Linked DNA regions of Homo sapiens: regions 2, 3 and 4 are each reported to be linked to region 1. The links are microRNA targets in miRTarBase. Many come from high-throughput screens and were not tested one by one. Region 1 holds a microRNA gene; each other region holds the end of a gene's coding sequence.
The links. Region 1 holds the annotated microRNA hsa-miR-1207-5p (UGGCAGGGAGGCUGGGAGGGG, at 2,085-2,105, opposite strand). A microRNA usually pairs through its seed, bases 2 to 8, with sites in the 3' UTR of a target mRNA and lowers its output. Matches are read on the target gene's strand: a 7mer-m8 pairs with bases 2 to 8, a 7mer-A1 pairs with bases 2 to 7 and ends in A, and an 8mer does both.

Region 2: the mRNA of MORN4 is a reported target of hsa-miR-1207-5p. Seed matches in the 3' UTR shown: 7mer-A1 at 383-389, 7mer-m8 at 876-882 and 7mer-A1 at 1,165-1,171.
Region 3: miRTarBase lists ASXL1 as a target of hsa-miR-1207-5p. Seed matches in the 3' UTR shown: 8mer at 860-867 and 7mer-A1 at 1,603-1,609.
Region 4: miRTarBase lists PTPN9 as a target of hsa-miR-1207-5p. Seed matches in the 3' UTR shown: 7mer-A1 at 1,262-1,268, 7mer-m8 at 1,806-1,812 and 7mer-m8 at 2,364-2,370.

Annotation. Positions count from the first base shown.
Region 1 is chr8:128,048,140-128,051,263 of GRCh38, reverse strand. It overlaps MIR1207 (microRNA 1207), which reads right to left and starts at 2,112; the gene lies at 2,026-2,112. The region is part of intron 6 of PVT1 (Pvt1 oncogene); the gene reads right to left. RefSeq lists a cis regulatory region at 1,721-1,973, enhancers at 1,852-2,397, 917-3,033 and a silencer at 2,586-2,769.
Region 2 is chr10:97,613,510-97,616,509 of GRCh38, reverse strand. It overlaps MORN4 (MORN repeat containing 4), which reads left to right. Exons shown (of 5, transcript NM_178832.4): 5 at 99-1,955. The coding sequence ends at 247. Among named protein-coding and RNA genes, the nearest start is that of MORN4, 18 kb to the left of the region's middle.
Region 3 is chr20:32,436,880-32,439,984 of GRCh38, forward strand. It overlaps ASXL1 (ASXL transcriptional regulator 1), which reads left to right. Exons shown (of 13, transcript NM_015338.6): 13 at 1-2,440. The coding sequence ends at 459. Among named protein-coding and RNA genes, the nearest start is that of ASXL1, 80 kb to the left of the region's middle.
Region 4 is chr15:75,466,127-75,469,250 of GRCh38, reverse strand. It overlaps PTPN9 (protein tyrosine phosphatase non-receptor type 9), which reads left to right. Exons shown (of 13, transcript NM_002833.4): 13 at 268-3,124. The coding sequence ends at 482. Among named protein-coding and RNA genes, the nearest start is that of SIN3A, 16 kb to the right of the region's middle.

The DNA.
Region 1 (3,124 bases):
CAGGCTTGGCACAGATTCCCAATAATGCAACCTCCTCACTGGATGATAGGCTATGTGAAGACAGAATCTTCATTTTATGCATCCTTACAACTCCAGTGTGAAGCACAGACACAACATATCATGTGCACTCAATCAATTTCGTTCAATGAAAGAACAAGTGACTCTCTTTCATTCTCTTGGAGTTGAATACTCAATCGTCCCATAAATGGTTCCAGTGCTCAAGCTGAGAATCTTACACCACAGTCAATGCCCTGAAGAAATTGAGACTGTGCTGGGAAGTCAGACACAAAAAGAAAGAGATGAGGTCCACTCTTGCTGTCATACATGAGGAACTAAGAGTCTTTCAAACAGAGGAAGATGACTTTGTGGCAGAAAAACCCACAGAGGAAGTGAATGATGGAATGGAACTTGAGGACAGGTGGAGTTTGAATAATCAGTGGGGTAGTCAATTAGAAGGTTAGGGAAAACCCCATTCATTTATCTGACAAGTCAAGCCCCAGTAGGAGCCTTTAGACAGGTTCTTCTCACAAGAACCCTGCAGGTAGGAACTATCAGCCCAGGTTAATGTCAAGGATACAGAGGCTTGGAGTGGTGAGGTGACATTCCTAGGGTCACAGAGCCAGCAACTGTTGGAGCTGAGGTCTGAACCCAGCACTCTCTGAAGCCAGAGCCCATGGATCTCTCAGGCATCCAAGGGAGAAAAAACAATGGGATCAAAGCACAGACGTCAAGGAAAGCAAGTAGTGTTTAAAAGACAAGAAGTGAGACCTGTTTACCAGAACTGATTCCCCACATAAGAGGCTCGGAGGCATTCAGTCTTTATTCACAGGCTGGAGTGATGTTGCGGTGGACTTAATGCCCCCTGAGAGGTCTGACTTCAAGCCTGTGGGTGACACGGAGCTACTGTTTTTGAGTTGGACAGGGACATGGTCAGAACTGTGCTTTCAGAATTTGGACTTGGCCACTGGAAGAAGAGACAGTTAAACTCAAGTTGCCCAACATGAGGCATGGGATGGGAGAGGTTGGGGAAGGGATGGAAGGAAACAGAGTGGGCACCAACAGGAAGGAAGCAAAGTCAGGAACTGCTGGCTGGAATGGGTCCAGGGAGAGGGAAAACCACTTCTCCTTCCTCTTCTTATGATTGCAAGATTAGTACTTGAGAATTAGGCTGCACAGGCCAGGACTTCCCAAAACTCAGGAGGGAAAGAGCCCAGAGCACGTGTCTCCAATGGAGGCTATAGTTCCAAATCACGTGATCATCGGTCATCTCCTTGCCCACCCTGAAGCCCTTGTCCCCAGTGTACTTTGGGCTCAGACAGTCCCTCAGGGGATACAGCAGTGTCCTTTCCTTCAGCATTCAGGGCAAATGAGAGGCAAAGAGATCAATGGAATGCAAAAGCGTTACTATAGATGAGAAGTCGGACGCACAGAGAGGTTCCACCACTTGCCTAATATCACACAGCAAGTACATGCCAGAATCAAAATTCAAACCTAGAGCCCCGGTGTAAACCTTACCTGAATCAGTCAGGGAGCAGCAGGGAGGCAGTGGAAGGATAGGCCCCCTGACCTCACTCCCCGCCTGCCTTCCCATCCTGCCAGTGCCTTCCAAACTGATACCAGAGAGCATGGCAGCCCTGTGTTGCATCCACCCTGATAATGCATCCACACAGGTCAGCCTTCTGGGCACAAAACAAGGCAGAGAAGAGCAAGGAGTGGACCTGGAGGGGCCCACGGAAGCTCCCCAGCACCCACCACTCCAATGGCCCAGCCCCTGGTAGGTCTCCAGTGCCCTTCACCCTACAGAGCCACAGAATCCCCAGACCTTGACGCTGCAGCTAGGGCCCGCCTGCCTCTCAAGAGAAGGGCAGGGCCCCACACAGGCAAGTGCTCTGCCTCCGCGCAAAGCTGGGCATGCGTCATCACACTCCCGCCTTCCTTCCTCATTCACTCTCCCTTGCCCTGCTTCTATCAGTGGCTCCAAGACGCAAACATCTCGAAATGACCTGCTTCTGTGTAGGTCAGCTAACAGAAGTGCTGTCTTAAGAAATGAGGGCCAGCTGATGCCCACTACCAGACCCAGCCAGCCCCTCCCAGCCTCCCTGCCAGCCCTGCACATGGAGGCCTGGCGGCCAGGAAAAAGAAAGGGCTCCTATCTCTGATTCCTCAGGGCCTCTGATAAGAAATGTCATCCCTTGCTGGGTAATATTACCAAGCCAGATAAAAATCTCTATCAAGCTTAAACATATGGCTGGCTGCAGAACACAGAGTCCAGTGGAGAAGGGTAATTTATTTGCTTAAGCTGAAAACCCTGGGCAGCCGAAAGAAGTGCCTGAATAAAAGAGTAAGAGCCAAATTATAACCTCTTCTGACTTGGCATGGGGATTTTTCCCTGGGAAGGATGAGACACCTGAGAACAACAGGGGGCTCTCCACACATTTCTCCTGACACAATAAGCGCTTTCGCCTTCCTCTTTCTTCAAAGGGCACTTTCACTTATGCTATCACATTTAATCCTCACTACAACCTCAAGAGAGGCATTTTTAGCTTCCTTTACAGATCAGGAAATTGAGATTCAGCAAGGTTAAGTAAAGTGGCCAAGGTCACACAGGCAGCCATGCTGGAGCGAGGACCCAAACCCCAGCAGGTCTGACTCACCATCAGATGGGGAAGCTGATCCCAGCTTCTGGGGAGGATCGGCTCATACATCCACTTAATCAGCGAAGTCAGATCTGCCCAACTTAACTGACAATGTCAGCTACACATTGTAATCTTGAAGGTCCATTTCAAGGCTCTCCCGTCTCCTTGTTTCTCTGTAGCCTAAAGGATAATGAGAAAGCCTTGCAGAGCACAGAAGCTCAAGGAAAAGGACGGGAGGCCAGGGATAGTACCCAGGAGAGCAGTGAGTGACCTCAGGGCTTAGATTCCAGCCTCATATGCTCAAGGAGTAGCAGGTAGAAGGAAACTGTGGAAAGAAAACTCCTCTCTCTGTTCATTCATTCATTCACAAATATTAGTGGAAAGCCTATTGTGTGCCTTCTCTAGCTTGGCCTTGGAGATACCAATGCAAATGGGCAGGCTAGGACCTGCCTTCATGGATCGTCTGTCTTCTAGAACTGACTTACAGG
Region 2 (3,000 bases), not on the chromosome of region 1:
CTCTTCTTTGGCCTGGACATATCAAGGCCAAAGATATGTCTCATCTTTGAGACATTAATGCCATTGTCACTCCCATATTTTCTCTGCCCTCCTCAAAGGCCTGCTGACTTTCCCTGATGGTTCTCATGGAATCCCCCGCAATGAAGGTCTCTTTGAGAACAACAAGCTGCTGCGACGTGAGAAGTGTTCTGCCATTGTTCAGCGGGCCCAGAGCGCCTCCAAGTCAGCCAGAAATCTCACTGCCTGACAGCGCAGTGGGCACCAGCTGATAAGTATTGGGTAAAGCCAGTGCCCCTGTTGTTGATTCGAGGTGAACAAATGAATCAGAGCTGAGATGAGTTGACAATGACAGTGGAGCAGAGGCCTTGTATGTGCCCTGTCACCTGCCATTCCAGAACTGGACCACAGAAAAGTGCTGAGGATGCTGGCCAGCAGACCCTGCAGCAGTCATTGGTGGTTCTGTCTTTCCCTAACCCTTATGTGCTGGAGGACAGAGGAGCCACCTCTTCTCACTGGTTGATACTCTGTTCCTAAGACCTCAGGTTACCCAGTGTAGCCTGCTGTGACCCTTCTGCTTCATTTTCTGCCAAGTGATACAGAACCTTCGTTCTGCTGCTTTGGGGACAGGTGATCCTAGCCCCAGCTTAGGGCCAGTGCTCTGTGCCACTCTGGAGAAATAGGGAAAAGATAGGGGTGGCTCAGTACAGCAGCCCTGTGAAAGTCAAGGCCAGAGCTTTTCTTTTTTAATTTTTTTATTATTATTATTATTATTTTATTTTTTATTTTTGAGATGGAGTTTTACTCTCGCCCAGGCTAGAGTGCAGTGGCATGATCTCAGCTCACTGCAACTTCTGCCTCCCAGGTTCAAGCAATTCCCCTGCCTCAGCTTCCTGAGTAGCTGGGACTACAGGAGCGCGCCACCACACCCAGCTAATTTTTGTATTTTTTTTTAGTAGAGACGGGGTTTCACCATATTGGCCAGGCTGGTCTCAAACTCCTGACCTCGTGATCCACCCGCCTTGGTCTCCCAAAGTGCTGGGATTACAGGCGTGAGCCACCACGCTCAGCCTTTAATTTTATTATTATAAAAAATTGAGCCAGGGTCTTGCTATGTGGCTCAGGCTCATCTCAAAATCCTGGGCTCAAGTGATCCTCCTGCCTGGGCCTGCCAAAGTGCTAGGATTGCAGGTGTGAGCCACTGTGCCTGGCTGGCAGAGCTTTTCCATATGTTACTCCTCATGCTGGTTGGAATCATGGCTGCAGGCTTCCACTTGGTCTGATCAGACTGGTATTCATTCCTGCCTATGTCCCCGTGAAGGATTCGGTAAGAGTGCTATTTCCTCCTCCCTTTAGAAGACAGGCTGTCTTCTTTCATCAACTTAGAGCAGATAATCCCCATGTGTGCCTCTCTCCTTCCTTAGATGGGGAACAGGATCCCTTTTTGGGACAATCAAGAAAAAAACTCATGTAAACAGTAATCTTATTACTTGTATTTGTGACTAACTCCAGGGAAAAGGGTAGAATATTTAGGCCACTTCAGGCACTACCATGGAGTGAACTGAATTCATACGGATGGCTTGGGCTGACACAGTTTCTTCCCAGTGGACCAATAAATCAGACTCACCCGAACCCCTGGGGTTTTGGTAGAATTGGACCTACTCTAGGACTGTGGGGAACTAAAGGAGCATTTGGCTCACTGTAGCTCTTCTATCATGAGCCTTGACCGTCAGGCCGCAATCAGACCTTACTGATGGGATCTCTGCAGTTTATTACGTAGGCCTCCCGTTACCCTGGTACCCAAATACGTCCCCCACCTCTAGCTCCCTAGCCTCACATTGAATGTCTCTTCAACAGCAGATTGTGGTGGAAGTTATAGCCGTGTGCCTCTATTTATTCTCTGAATTGTACTGTAGAAAAAGGTGTTTATAAAGAATAAAGAAATCACCAGAACTGCCTATACCTAGTTTTCCTGACTTTCTGGCCCTGCGTCTTCATGAATATCAACCCATTTGCTGTTTGTAAAAGTTAATCGGGTTAGCCCTTGGAACTGACCCTGCACACTTTATCAAGTCATCTAATTTTCTCAGCCTCTACAGAGGAGGACGTATGAACTTTTTTTTCTTATTTAAATCAGACAATCTCAGGCTGTCCCAACTAGTAGGTAGCACAGCTGGGTGAGATTTGTAACCGAGCCTTTCTGATTCCAGCTCCCTTTACTGGACCTCTCTCACCCTGAGCATCAGAGTACTTAAGTCCTGAGACTAGTTATGGCCACACCTGCTGGGTTACCTCTGGCAGGTCCACTCCTGCCGGAGTTTCCCTTTTTCTGCAACAGGAGAGTGGTGGAACATTGACCCCCACGCTAACCCTTTTACATGCACGTCCTTGTTGGAGGAAGGTACTATTATTATCCCTGTATTACAGATGAGGCTCAGGGAAGTTAAGCAGTTTCTCCAAGGTCCCATAGACACTAAGGGGCAGATCCCAGAACTTAAACCCAGACCTGTTTAAGCCCAGAGGCTGAGCTCTTACCCAGTGCACTACCCTGCCTGCCTAGCCCTAACTTTTCCCCCAAGTCCTAAACTTGATTCTCCTCTGAGCCTTGCTCCTCTGGAAGTTGCCTGTGAGAGGACCCCAGGCACTAAGCCCCAAGCTGTAGTGCCATTCAGAGCCTGGTTTTGGGTTGAAGATTGAGATCTTTTATTTTCTCTCCTTTAGCCTCTGCCCTAAACAAGTATCTATTTACCTCTCTTTTTAACCTTACACTTTCTTTTAAGGAGTAATTTTTTTACAATGTATCTCCATTTTTCTGCCACTAGTCAAATATTACCACTGAAAAAGGTTAAATATTTTGGAGAAAGCATCCTTTTTTGTTGTTGTTGTTGAGATGGAGTTTTGCTCTTGTGGCACAGGCTGGAGTGCCATGACACGATCTCGGCCCATTGCAACCTCCACCTCCCACGTTCAAGCGATTCTTGTGCCTCAGCCTCCTGAGTAGCT
Region 3 (3,105 bases), not on the chromosome of region 1:
CATAGTCCCCTGGAACTGGTGGGTCACTTGGAAGGGATGCCCTTTGTCATGGACTTGCCCTTCTGGAAATTACCCCGAGAGCCAGGGAAGGGGCTCAGTGAGCCTCTGGAGCCTTCTTCTCTCCCCTCCCAACTCAGCATCAAGCAGGCATTTTATGGGAAGCTTTCTAAACTCCAACTGAGTTCCACCAGCTTTAATTATTCCTCTAGCTCTCCCACCTTTCCCAAAGGCCTTGCTGGAAGTGTGGTGCAGCTGAGCCACAAAGCAAACTTTGGTGCGAGCCACAGTGCATCACTTTCCTTGCAAATGTTCACTGACAGCAGCACGGTGGAAAGCATCTCGCTCCAGTGTGCGTGCAGCCTGAAAGCCATGATCATGTGCCAAGGCTGCGGTGCGTTCTGTCACGATGACTGTATTGGACCCTCAAAGCTCTGTGTATTGTGCCTTGTGGTGAGATAATAAATTATGGCCATGGGAAACATTGTATATTTAGTGTGTGTATTTTGATAATGATTGATCTTAAATCTGTATACAGAATATCATTGATATAATACTCTTTAGGCAGGAGCACTCTTGCCTTCCCCCAAAATTTACACTGCTAAAGCCCTCTGTCACTTGGCGACCCTTCTGGTCTTGCTGGAGGGGTTTCCTGGGTATAACCCATTGGGCTGCCCAAGGCCAGCCAGCCTGAGCTCTCCTGCAAGACAGAGCCTGATGTGGCACGGAGTGGGGTTGCGGGGGGTGGGGGGACTGCCTGACTCCCAGAGGGACTTGAAACTGAAGCAAGAAGGTTGCATTCTCCACCAAGGGAGTTAACCTACCTGAACTAAGTAGAAATGCCAGTCTTCCACTACCCCCTCCCTGCCATCTTTTCTTCTGCTACTTTGGGGAGTTGATGGCCAGGAAAGAAGCCAGCACAGGGTTAAAGTAACTCCTGGCATTGCCCACCAGGGGGCTGGTGCACCTGCTGACCTCAGGGTCACAGTTGAGTCATTTGCCAGTTGACGGAGCAAGTTTGACCTTGGTTCTGTTGCTGAAGCAAATTTGGAACTTTTCTGTCTCAGTGTGATCCACTAACCCACAGGATCATTTGGAACCTTGAATAGCTCTGCTTGGACAATGGGGTTGGGGAATAGGGTTGTCTTTCCTATGAAAATGCCATCTGTAGACCTTGTGAGTCAGCCGTCCAGATGTTTGCAGGTGAATTCCTCTGCTTGACATCCTCCCTGTCACTTTGGACCCTATGGGAGTGGGCATCTCCACGCACCTGTGTATGTGAAAGTCATTTTACATTTCAAAGCAGTGTGTGTTTCTTATTTTTATATTTTTAACTCTTTATTCTTGGATGTATAAAGTGAACTTTTTGGCTTCTGTAAGTATGCTCTATGCACCTCTAATGTTTTATCATGTATTTATATGTTGTACACAGTACTGGCTGATTCTGTAAATGGATGTATTGTACAGAGAACATGAACGTCTCTTCCTAATTTTACATCTTCAGCATCATTGCATTAAAGTGGTGTAATCTCCTTCTCTACATCTGTTGTCAGAGCCACTGAGTGCTGTGCTGCTCGACGTGAGGGTGAAATGATTGACTTGTGACCTGCCAGGTTGCCCGATGCCCTGTTGGGTCACCGGCTGGACCTGCTGCAGCCTGCAGAGCCACAGTCAGCCTGCCCACATGCCACCGAGCAAACGCATCTTGCTTTTCACATCTCTCCTCCTACAGCCTTAATGGCTGCTTGCTGCCATATGTGACAAATCACCACCACCAGTGTTAAGTGCTTCTGGATTCATGGGTGAGTTCCCTGGGCAGCCCCCAGGAAGGCCTTCCAGATCTGGCTCCAGGGTCACCACCTGTCACAGCAATACCTGGGACCATGCTCTCCTGGGACTGTGAGGCTCCTTTTGACGTACTTTTGACATCAGGCAGGTTTGGGAAGAAACAAAGCCATGCCTGCTCCTGCCTCTCTCCCAACATGTTTCCAGCAAGTAGATGCCCCTGTGTGTGTTTTCCCTTGCCTTGTTTCCTGCCTTATATCTTGTATTTCGACTTATTACAGAGTTGAGGGTTCTTGCTTAATTTAGATCAAGTATAAAATTTGTATGACTTCAAGTCTCATTTTATCTGAAAGGTTTTTTTCTCATTTAATCTGATGTGGCATTTTCGTCATCTGAAGCATGAGTGACAAGTTGGGAATGATGTGGTGATTTAGAATGCAGTATTGGCCAAGTCCAAGTTGTCAACTTAAGCGTCTGTTTACCAAAGACCGGGAACAGGGGCCCAAACATGTCCAGTCCTCTTCTTCCCTCTGCTGGAACCTTTGGGGACACTCAAGGGTACAGTTTGACACTGATCTGGTCCATGAGGCTGCCCAGAGAAAGCACTGCTTCTGTATGTCTCTTGTGGTATTGGAACAATAAACCCGTACAACCTGCAGTTGTGGTCTCAGTCATCTGTGGCTGCCTCGCTGGTGTGGGAAGGTCAGCTGGAGTGCTGAGCTGGAAGGGAAGGAGTAGACGCCAGCTCTCCTCACCTTGGCTCTGGAGCTACTCTTCTTATACTTGGAGCTCTTCTTTTGGGAGGTTAGTCCAAAAGGAATGACTTGGCAGCTTCACTGGTCTTTAGCCATTCATGACTTGGCGGACTTCACCACATAGACTGCAGTCAGCGTTCTACTGAGAGCAATGAGAATGTTTCCCCTTGGGAGTGCGAGTCACAAACTGTGACATCCCTCTGCAGCAACTCATCCAAACAGCTTCACTGAGGTTGAGGTTGCCAAGTGGCTTCCTAATGGTTAGTGGTCTTCTGTGGGAGGGTGACTAGCTCTAACCTTGGAAAACCTTAACCACAAGCACCTCTTTCTGTAGCCTCTGGTGGCAGTGAGAGGAAGGTGCTGGCCCAGGGTGGGGTGTCTGATGCTAGTTGCGTGAGCCTGAGTAGACGACGTGCTTCAGGGATTGACTTCTTGAGAAGTCCTCAGACGTCTCTAGAGTACGTAAATACATTGACTTTGTGCTTATCAGAAATAATTTTATTAGTATATAAATAAGCCAAAACAGCAAAATGATGGGAGTTTAAACATATATTCATTAATTTTTTCC
Region 4 (3,124 bases), not on the chromosome of region 1:
CAGGAAGTTCCCCTGTGTCACCTTCCCATTTCCACTTCCTGTTACCCCAAGTGTATGTCCTGAGAAATAAGAGGCCTTCTCATTTCTCTGGCCTCCAACACTCCCTGTGACCTCCTTCTTGAGTCCTTTCAGGCCTAAGGCCACCTGGCCTTCTGCCATGAGGCACTTTGCCTGTGAAGTCATTCATTCAGTTCTGCCTGGGTTATTTGGTAGAGGGAGGAAGAGAAGAGAGGTAAACCAGATGTGATCACTTCCTTCCTTCTTCAGGTACCTTCTGCTCACTGGACATCTGCCTGGCACAGCTGGAGGAGCTTGGCACCCTTAATGTGTTCCAGACGGTGTCACGCATGAGGACCCAGAGGGCCTTCAGCATCCAGACCCCTGAGCAGTACTATTTTTGCTACAAGGCCATCCTGGAGTTCGCAGAGAAGGAGGGCATGGTATCCTCTGGCCAAAACCTGCTGGCCGTGGAGAGTCAGTAACTCTCCTACGAACCTCCTACCTGTTGGCCAGCCTTCCTTAAACTACCCTGGACACCGCTGAGCCTATAGGTTGCCATCAGTTACGCTGAAGCCATGGATCAACTTCTTTCTTGTGTCTCCCAGCACACGTGTGCACGCAAGGCAGCCTTTCCCTTTGGCTAGATAAATGTGGTGAAATTGCCACTAGAAAGGGCCAGTAGCAATGTGTTCTTAATTCCTAGCATCTGCTATCAAACTGTGCCTTATTAAAACCAAATTGTGGCTATTGATTTTTGCTAGGGTCCCCGAGGTAAGTGGGGAAGGAACCTCCCTCCTCCTTTCTCCCGCCATTCTTTTTCTGAGGTCTCCTGTCTCCCACTCCTTCCCTTTCCTAGGATTTTATGGGGAGGTTTGATGAGCATTTGCCTTTCTCCCCAGAGAGCTTGACCAAGTTACATATTCTAGAGATCGTCCTGAGTGCCAAGCACGTTTATAAGTAGGGCGTGTATTCCAGTCCTTTCTGTCATTCTGTGTGTGTGTGTGTGTGCACTTATGTGTATGGGTCCATATGTACGTGTGTATATAATATATATTGTATGTGATAATATGATCGTATTCTATAAATACATATACACACGATACTCCTTTCCAGAAGTTCCTGGGGCTCCGTGTTGCAGTTCAGGACTCCTTGCTTCTTGGACCCTACTATTTATCCTGGACTAGCTTGGGTTGGTGATCATGTCTCCTCTTGTCAGGCTACAGAGTGGTGGAAGAGGACACACACACATCTCCTCCATGTTCCTGCCACAGGGCCCCTTCCTTAAGTAATGACTTATCTCCTTCCAGTTGCCACCTGTTGGAGCCAAGAATGTATTAGTTTGTGGTGACACTGGGTTAGCTCAGCATGGATTTCCCTTATCCGATGATTTTTCTACATTTACTTGGCCAATTTGGGGAACAGACCTCCACTGTGATTCCATACTCTCTCTTTGCTTTCACTATCCCAGGGATGGGAGGCGGAGGGTAGAGATGAACTCACTGAGCAGCCAGAGCCAAATGCAATCGGTACGAATCTTAGAAGGAAGGAGGGGGAGCCCAGGTATGAGAAAGAAAAAACCACTAAGAAAATACCTCCCTGGGAGGATGAGCTGGGGCCCTTTTTCTTTTGCTGGATGGTTCCTTTATGCAGCTTGGCCCTGTCTACCGAGATGCCCATCTCTTCCTGCCTGCTAGCCTGCTAGACCCTCAAACTGGGTGGGTTCTGTGTCAATAAAAAGCTTCACCCCCTGGCTGAGTGAGGTGGTCCCCTGCAATCACTGTTTGTCCCCTACCCACCCAACCTGTCCCTGCCTGCTCCCAGCCCACTCATCCTTATGTGCTAGGGATAAATCAAGAGTCCTCAGCACTCCACATTCCCAAAAAATCCCAGGAACTCCTAAACCTTCCCCTGTGACAGAAGATGAGGTTGGCAGCTGATCAGACCTCAATAATTTTATACTGTAATAAGCTCTTTGAATGTGTATATTATTATTTTTTACAATCATTTCATTTTGTATTTAATATCAATGGACTGAGTCTGATTCAGAAAATAATTGTAATGTTCATATTCAATATCTTACAGTGATACAGTTTTGTATTTACATATAAATATACCGACATGATCAAAACCCTTTTAGCTTCATCAATTTAGCAGCCTGGGACATGAGGGAGGGGGTCCAGGAGCTGGTCTGGGAGGGATGAGGGAGGCAGGGAGGGACCCAAGCCTTCAGTATCTGAGACTTTGAGTTCTGACACTATGAGTTCACCTTGTCTGTAGGCCATGGCCCTATCTCTGGACAGAGGGACCAGCACCAGTTCAGTGCTTGAGATGTGCTAAGCACTATGCTAGGTGCTTTTCCCCCACCCTGCCTCATTCAAACCTCACAACAATTCAGTGAGATATTATCTTCTCTCCCTTCTCCTGTGCACCCCTTTCTCATTTCTATATAGATGAGGAAGGTGAGGTCCAGAGGGTTACAGTGATTTGCTCTAAAACGAGCTCAAGTTGGTCTGCTTACAAAGCCTGTGGTCTCTTCACTGCATGGAAGATGGAGATCTTGTGTTTGGAGAACAGAGGTTTGTTTAGCTCTCCTTTCAGAGTAAAAAAAGTTCTTAAATTCCAGGTTGTTGTTCTTGTGCCCATGCTTCATGTAGTAGACGCGAAGGGTGACAGGGTTGGTGACTGACTGTCCTAGCTAGGACCTCCTGATGTAGGGTCCTCATGTCTGCAGCGTACCAAAGGGGTTATCATTCTCCCCAGGAGACTCCATATCTATGGGTACATGGTCTTTGTGAGAAGATCTTGAGTCATTTGCATTTATCTCTTAGAAAGAAAGGAACCAGAAGCTTTGTACATGGAAGACCACTCCCCATATCATACCTGTTGGCTGTTGATGGCCTGCCCAGTTGGGGCAGTTGTGGCTGGGAAATATTGGGGTGTTCTTAATAATAGTCATAGCAGCCAATTTACTGGATGCTCACTCTATTCCAGGCACTGTTCAGAGTAATTTCTAGGTATCATCTCATTCACCCTCAACAACCTTTTGAGGTAGGTATTGACAGAAGAAAAAAATTGAGAGACAGGAATGTTAATTTGCTACAGCCAGGATCCCAGACCATCTGAC